Linked DNA regions of Homo sapiens: region 2 is reported to be linked to region 1. The links are microRNA targets in miRTarBase. Many come from high-throughput screens and were not tested one by one. Region 1 holds a microRNA gene; the other region holds the end of a gene's coding sequence.

Evidence for each region. The annotated mature microRNA hsa-miR-8060 reads CCAUGAAGCAGUGGGUAGGAGGAC and lies in region 1 at 2,686-2,709, shown strand. An mRNA with a match to its seed (bases 2 to 7 or 8) in the 3' UTR can be bound and repressed. Matches are read on the target gene's strand: a 7mer-m8 pairs with bases 2 to 8, a 7mer-A1 pairs with bases 2 to 7 and ends in A, and an 8mer does both.
Region 2: miRTarBase lists TM9SF1 as a target of hsa-miR-8060. Seed matches in the 3' UTR shown: 7mer-m8 at 3,453-3,459.

What each region holds. Positions count from the first base shown.
Region 1 is chr3:96,357,321-96,361,470 of GRCh38, forward strand. MIR8060 (microRNA 8060) reads left to right here and starts at 2,644; the gene lies at 2,644-2,719.
Region 2 is chr14:24,185,919-24,189,918 of GRCh38, forward strand. TM9SF1 (transmembrane 9 superfamily member 1) reads right to left here. Exons shown (of 6, transcript NM_006405.7): 6 at 3,231-3,890. The coding sequence ends at 3,497. It overlaps IPO4 (importin 4), which reads right to left and starts at 2,898. Exons shown (of 30, transcript NM_024658.4): 1 at 2,801-2,898; 2 at 2,634-2,720; 3 at 2,426-2,505; 4 at 2,298-2,339; 5 at 1,749-1,878; 6 at 1,482-1,661; 7 at 1,167-1,232; 8 at 960-1,061; 9 at 790-873; 10 at 369-533; 11 at 211-264; 12 at 1-52. The coding sequence starts at 2,869. RefSeq lists silencers at 1,894-2,104, 2,350-2,469.

The DNA of each region.
Region 1 (4,150 bases):
TAAAAATCAGAGCTGAACTGAAGGAGACTGAGACATGAAAAACCATTCAAAAGATCAATGAAGCCAGGAGCTGTTTTTTTTTAAATTAATGAAATAGACTGCTAGTTAGACTAATAAAGAAGAAAAGAGAAAAAAAACAAATAAACAAAATCAGAAATGACAAAGAGGGTATTTCTGACTGCACAGAAATAAAAATAATCATCACAGATTATAATGAACACCTAAGATTTTTGTCAGAGCTTTTGTTCAGAATGGTATTTTCTAGGTTATATTCCGGTGTTTTTATAATTTTAGGATTTACATTTAAGTCTTTAATCCATCTTAAGTTGATTTTTGTGTAGGGTGTAAGGAAGGGGTCCAGTTTCAATCTTCTGCACATGGCTAGCCAGTTATCCCAGCACATTCATTCAACAGGGAGTCCTTTCGCCATTGCTTGTTTTTGACAGCTTTGTCATAGATCAGATGGTTGTATGTGTGTGGCCTGACTTCTGGGCTCTCTATTATGTTCCATTGGTCTATGTGTGTGTTTTTGTACCAATACCATCCCGTTTTGGTTACTGTAGCCCTCTTGAAGTCAGGTAGCATGATGCCTCTAGCTTTATTCTTTTTGCTTAGGATTGCCTTCACTATTCCAGGTCTTTTTTTGTTCCATACAAATTTTAAAATAGTTTTTTACTAGCTCTGTAAAGAACATTATTGGTAATTTGATAGGAATAGCATTAAATCTATAAATTGCTTTGGGCAGTATGGCCATTTCAACAATATTGATTATTCCAACCCATGAGCATGGAATGTTTTTCCATTTGTTTGTGTCATCTCTGATTTCTTTGAGCAGTGTTTTGTAATTCTCATTGTAGATTTGATTATTTTTGTGGCATTTGTGAATGGAATTGCATTCCAGATTTGGCTTTTGGCTTGACTGTTGTTGGTGTATAGTAATGCTAGTGATTTTTATATGTTGATTTTGTATCCTGAAATTTGATGAAGTTGTTTATCAGTTGAAGAAGCTTTTGGACCAATACTATAGAGTTTCCTAGATATAGAATTCTGTTGTCTGCAAACAGGGATACTTTGACTTCCTCTTATCTTATTTAGATACCCCTTTATTTCTTTCTCTTGCCTAACTGTTGTGTCCAGAACTTCCAATACTATGTTGAATAGGAATGAGGTGGGAGGACATCCTTGTCTTGTGCCCATGTTCAAGCGGAATGCTTCCAGCTTTTGTCCATTTAGTATGATGTTGGATTTGTCAAAGATAGCTCTTATTATTTTGAGGTAGTTTCCCTCAAAACCTAGACTACCTGATCTTCAACAAACCTGATAAAAAACAAGCAATAAGGCAAGAATTCCCTATTCAATAAATGGTGCTGGGAGAACTGGCTAGCCATATGCAGAAGATTGAAACTGGATCCCTTCCTCACACTATAAGCAAAAATCAACTTAAGAAGGATTAAAGACTTAAATGTAAATCCTAAAATTATAAAAACATTGGAAGATAACCTAGGAAATATCATTCTTGACAAAAGCTCCAACAAAAATATTAGGATGATGATGCTAAAAGCAATTGCAATAAAAACAAAGATTGACAGATGGGCCCTAATTAAACTAAAGAGCTTCTGCACATCAAAAGCAACTATCAACAGAATAAACAGAAAACCTACAGAATGAGAGAAATAACTGCAAACTACGCATTTGACAAAGGTCTAATATCCAACATCTGTAAGGAATTTAAAGAAATTTACAAGAAAAAAAGCAAACAACCCCATTAAAAAGTGGGCGAGAGACATGAACAGACATTTTCCAAAGACACAAATGCAGCCAACCAAGCCTGTGAAAAAGTTCTCAATATCACTGATCATTAGAGAAATGCAAATAAAAACTGTGAGATACCATCCCACACTAGTCAAAATGGCTATTACCCAAAAGTCAAAAAATAACAGATGCTGGCAAGATTGTGGAGAAAAGGGAATGCTCATACATTTTTGGAAGGAGTGCAAATTAGTTCAGTCATTGTGGAAAGCAGTAAGGCAATTCGTCAAAGAGCCAAAAAAGGGACTAAGAATTGACAGCAAACTTGTTACTGTATATATGCCCAAAGTAATATAAATTGTTCTGTATAAAGACACACACATACGTGTATGTTCATTGCAGCACTGTTCAGAATAGCAATGACATGGAATCAACCTAAATGCCTATCAATGGTAGACTGGATAAATAAAATGTTGTACATATATACCATGGAATACTATGTAGCCATAAAAAGAATGAGATCATGTCCTTTGCAGGAACATGGATGGAGCTAGAGGCCATTATCCTGAGCAAATTAATGCAGGAACAGAAAACCAAATATCACATTTCTTATTTACAAGTAGGAGCTAAATAATGAGCATGAACACAAAGAGAGGAACAACAGAGACCTGCCAGAGGGTGGAAGGTGGGAGCAAGGAGAGGAACAGAGAAAATAACTATTGAGTACTAGGCTTCGTACCTGGTAATGAAATAATGTGTACAACAAACCCCTGTGACACAGTTTACCTATAAAACAAACCTGTATGGTACCCCTGAATCTAAAATAAAAGTTTGAAAAAGTAAAATAAAAGTAAAAATAAAAGCATAAGTGCATATAAATCAATATAGCATAGGTTTAAATCCTGTTTTTCCCACTTACTATTCTGGTCAGATATCCCATGAAGCAGTGGGTAGGAGGACAGGAAAAAGCTCATACGGCCACTAGAAATACATGTGTGACTAGGTAACCTCATATTCGAAATTCATAGTTTACCCGTGAGAATTTGATTACTGAAATGGAATAATGATAAATAATACAAAATAAATTAACTATGGAGATGTTACCTTAAAAAAATGTTGGGGCTAGGTGCGCAGATTATATACAATCATTGCTTCTTCCTCAGCTACTGGGCTTGAGGTTGGCAAAGCCAATGGTTGTGAAGGAATGGTGAACGTAAAGTGAGGCAGGGGGAGCAAAGAGAAATGGAACCTTCAAGGAGGAGCCGAAAATTGGGTCAGCCTCTCATTGCCTCCTTGCCTTCATCCCTATGTTGCAGATGAACTTCAGGAGAAGCTTTCCTCACAGAGATAAGCACAGACTTGAACCAGGATCCAAAGAAACTCAAGGAAGGGATGCAACAAAACACGGAGAAATTGAGAGCCTGGCTACTAATGCTGCAGTGTTGCATGCTCTGGCCAAGGACTTAGAAAAGCTGAAGGAGTATAATCAGTGAGAACTGGAAGAACTCTAAGGTGAGCTGCTTTTTCACAACAACCAATAAGCCAGCAGATCAGTGACAATGTGCACAAGCAGTAGAAGCTTCACAGCACCCTGTTCCAACATTCCCAGTATACAAAAATATGGCTGCCCTTTACATGCACATTTCAAATTATGCACACAATTTGTTCTGTGGCTAATACTGTATTGGAGCTATGCAGCAAAGCTTATGCCTAGAACATTTCACTACTAATTTAACTAAGTTGACTTTTTTTTTTTAATCTTTTGGTTTTTGGTCTGCTTTCAGACCACAGCAATCATCAACACAGAAGACTGCTGTTATAAAATGTAGGTGGGTGGGGTTCTCCTCACCACCAAGCAAGCAATAAATTCTGCAGCGGACATTAACTGGGTGTTCTACAATTCAGTTCCAACACTAGCTAGAGATAGGATCAGATCCCTCAGATTGAGAGTTCAGTCCTGATGTATGCCCCCCACTAGAGATCTATTACGAGTCCTAGACTCCAGAACTTCTGACCAACCGTCTTCAAGTCAAAGTTTCCATGACTCCATCTTTGGCTTTCATTAATTTTCTGAAGCAGTTCAAAGAACCCAGAAAAACTCTTACTTTTGTTTACCAGTTTATTTTAAAAGATATTACAAAAGATACAGGTGAAAAGATGCACAGGACAAAGTATGAGGGAAGGGGCACCTAGGTTCCCTAAACCTCCTTTGGCAAGTCATCCTCCAGGAACCTCCACTTGTTCAGCTCTCCAGAAGTTCTTCAAACCCTGTCCTTTGGGGGTTTTATGGAGGCTTAAATAGGTGTGACTGACAACCATGCAGCCTTTTTGTCCAATCACATATAGAGGTGTCCACATGTAGCTGTGTGATTGCATCAAAAGGGCACATGGCTATTACTAT
Region 2 (4,000 bases), not on the chromosome of region 1:
CTTTGCGCTGGTATGGGCTCTCGCTCCGCAAAGCCTCTTCCAACATGGGCATCTAGGGAAGCATGTGGCACGCTTCTGAAACCCCAGCAAGAGCCTGCCCATTCCTGTGGTAATAGGCCTTCACACCTCCCAGGGTCTAAACGTCGTTGGCCTCAGGGGGACTAGGCACACTTGGAGGTAGGGACACCAGAAGGACAGAGCCACACTTACCAGCTGGGGACAGAGCTTCTCGGGGGGCAGGTGTAGTGCCAGCATGTCCACAACCTGAGATGGGATGGGGAGACTTACTTTGCTTGACTCCATCTCTGCCTCCCCAACGTCCCACAGCCACCTAACACCTTCCCCCTCTGTCCTGCCCCACATCTCACTTGTACAGCGAAATGCTTGGGAGTCTCCCCCATCAGCTCAATCTCCAACTCTTCCTCTTCTGAATCCTGGTCCTCGGGATCCAACTGGCCTGGTGGGGGCTCAGCAGCCACAATGGGGAAAAGGGTGTGCAGCAAGGGTGGCAGGAGACGATTCTTCAGTAAGGCCTTGACAGAGAAGGTGGAACAGTGTCCCTAAGAATCTGCTCCCAGGATGGGCTCACATTAAAAATTCCAGTCTTCCAGGCCATAAGGGGTCTGACAGAAAATTCCCAACCTCCCAGGCAGGAGCTGGGGTGAGGCCAGGCCAAGGCTTGAACCCCCACAGTACTTTAGATACCCTGAGATGGACCGAAAGCCCCAGGAGTGAGACTAAGGGTGGAGATGGGGGTGGGGTGATGTGTGTCAATGGGCACTCACTTACCTTGCTCTTGACTTTGACCAAGAAAGTGAGGCAGCAGAGAATACGTATGCGTATCGCATTGCCCAGGGCCACATTTCTAGCTACCTGTCCACAGAATAATAAAAATCAGCGACAGGGAAGGAGAGTCCCAGCAGAGCATGTAGCAGGGGCCATGTCCACTCCAGGCTCACCTCCAGGCAGAATGTGAGGACTTCAGAGAGGTAGGGGGTGATGACCGGCACCTCTGACTCCAACAGTTCATCCAAAGCCTCAAGGGCCTCACAGGCCTTTGCCTGACAGACAAACAAGGCACAAGGTTACCATGCTCTTCTTCAGTGGGCCAAACTGGACACTTCTGCACTCTCCTTCCAACAGAGCTCCTGCCCACCTGTCCTCACCTCATCTATGGGGATCAGAGTCTGCATGGCCATGATCAGCTTGGGCACCAACATCCGAGCGAGAGGCTGAGGGACACATCACAGAGAGCATGATGCAGCCCAATCTCACACCCCAGCAGCTGGCAGCTTCCTCACAGCCTGAATTGCGAGGAGGAGCCCAGGCATAACAGCCAGGCCCACCTACAGCATCCCCTCTCAATTGTCAGGAAGGGCCACAGGCAGGTAAAGAATCCAAAGCAGCTTTGTAACTTTTACGGGTGAGGACATGAAGGCATGAGGAAAGGGAGTCAAAGATAACGAGGGCCCACATCTCACCACATCTTCAGTGCTGAGGTAGGGAGCCATGGTGGTCAGAGTGCGCAGGGAGTAGAAGAGCAGCCCAGGAGAGCCCACCTCACCAAGAGTCTCATTCAGAAGCCGAAGAAGCTCCCGGTGGTGGGGTTGGAAGGCCTCGGGCCGGGAGGTCACCACCACACTTAGCAGCAAAAGCCCCATCTGTCCAAGAATAGAGGATGGGAGAGCAAGCTTACAAGGTCTATCCAGCCTCTCAGGCCCTCCCTCCTGCCAACCATGTGATGGTACCTCTCTCTCTGGGCTGTGGGGGCTGTGGGTACTGTGCTGAAGCAGCTGCAAAAGCTGTGGCCAGGCCTCCAAGCCTTCCTTTCGAAAAATGGTGGCTGAGAGCTGGGCCAGGCTGAGGCTCACACAGTGCCTGCAAACAGGAGAGATCTCCTCCAATCACCCTTCAATACCTTCCTCTGCACACAGTGGCCAGGCTCAATGGGGCAGCCAGGACAGAAACTTTCAGGAGGTGTGGGCACAGGGTCTTTGCCAAGTTGGGACACATGAGACAGCAGCTCAGAGGGAGCCCAACAGCACTGTGGGCATGTAATCTGGTAAGTTCAGTCTAACTTAGCCTGAATTTCAGTCTTATTCTTCTGACTTGGGTTTGGCAGATCATCATCACCCTTCCTCAAGAACTTTAGTCTTCAAAACAGCCTTAAAATCCTCACTCCACCTTGCGTCTAGAACTGAAGTCCCTGCCCCACAAGTCCCAGCCTGGAGCCGAAAAGGAAGGCAGAAACCTAGACAAAGTCGTCAAGATCCCGAGAGAAGTGGGTAGGTACTTACTCTGTTTCTCTCTGCAGGGCCGTCAGGATCAGGGACTTGAGGCTGGAACACAGGTGGCAGGTGTTTGGTACCCAGCCTGCCCAAGAAAAGTCTCCGCCTGGCCCCGCCCCACCCCAGGCCCAGCCCACCTCTCCCGTTGCTCCGCCGCCAGCCGTCGCCAGCGGGTGTTCAGTCGTCTGCGGGTCAGCACGGCCGCAAACTGGCGGATCTAGGACGAGGAAGCAAGCACGTGGGGGTCCGGGCAGGAAGGTGCTGAGCGGACCGCAGTGGGCGAATACTGGGGCTTGACCGGTGGCGTACAGTGGGAAGCTCGGAGGGGAGAGTCAGGGGTCTCACCTGGGGGTCGGCCGCCGAGGCTAGCAGGTCGCAGAGAGCCGGCAAAGCGGCGGGGGCCCGAAGAACGATCTGGAGCTGTTCCGTGGCCTGGGGGGAAGCTAGGGGTGAGAGTTGGGCCTTTCCCGCAACCTCCCGCTCGCCCTGGCCCGGTTACGCCTGCTCCGTACCCGACGGATGCGCTCGGTGTCCGGTAGCAGCAGCTCCCGTAGGAGCTGCTCTAGCCCGGCTGACTCCATGGCAGCAACTGAGCCGCCGCTACTGGGCCGAAAAGGGGAGGGGGAGGGACAGCACGTGGAGGTTCTGACACCCACTTCCGGAGGAAAGGGCGTTGCTGCACGCCCCGCGGGTTGCCAAGGTGATTCAATTCGCTTCCCACAAAGAGGTCCGGCTCCTCCACTTCCGTTAGGCTGAGCACCGGCTGAATCGCGGAAACCCGACTCTGGCAATGTAGGTTCCCCACGCCGGGAGTTCCCAAGCTGGGTTGGAGAACTCGAGCTTCGGGCATTCAGTGGCCAGCTCGGCTTTATAAAGGACCGTGCCCTTAACAGCAGGGCTCGAGTTCCTATATCCAGACCAAAACCTCCAACTGCATGAGCCTTTTTCTTAATAAATTTTATTTTGGTAATTGTAAAAAGAAAAATCAGGACCAAAACTAAAGGCAACTTAAAAAGTTCAAATATATAATCCTTATGTGATAGAGATTTATAATTTCCAGGCCCTCTCTGGGGAAGGAATGCCCAAAGGGCAAAAGGGAAGGCAACAATGCCATCACACAATTCAGTCAATCAGAAGAGAAGCTGGTAGGAGAGTTCAACAGGGCATGAAGAAAGGGAGAGAACAGCAATAGTTCTGCCATACAGAACTCAGTCCATCTTGAGGTTAACATAGATATACCGGATGAACTTTAGGGAAGAAAAAAAGGAGATGGTGCCCAGCATGAGGAAGAAGACATAACCAGTGAGTAAGGAGTAGCCGAAGAACTCTACTGTCTGTACTGCCCCAGACATGTTGGAGCGCCGGGCATAATAGAAAACTGAGTAGAGGAAGATGAAGAGGCCGGTGGAGCCAACACTCAGCACAGATCGCCACCACCAGCGGTAATCCTCCCCAGACAACTGGAAGTAGGTGAGTGCAATGGAGATGCAAGCCCCCACACTCAGCAGGATGGCGAAGACAAAGAAGAGGATGCCGTACAAAGTGTACTGCTCCCGACCCCATACTGTGGCAAAGATGTAGTACAGCTCCACAGAGATGGCACTGTGAAGAAAAGAGATGATACACAGCATTAAAGGGCTGTGCACCATCAGCACAGTGGCTGGGCTGAAATCCAGCCCCCACCCTCTCCCATGTTGCTGGGTCATTGTGAA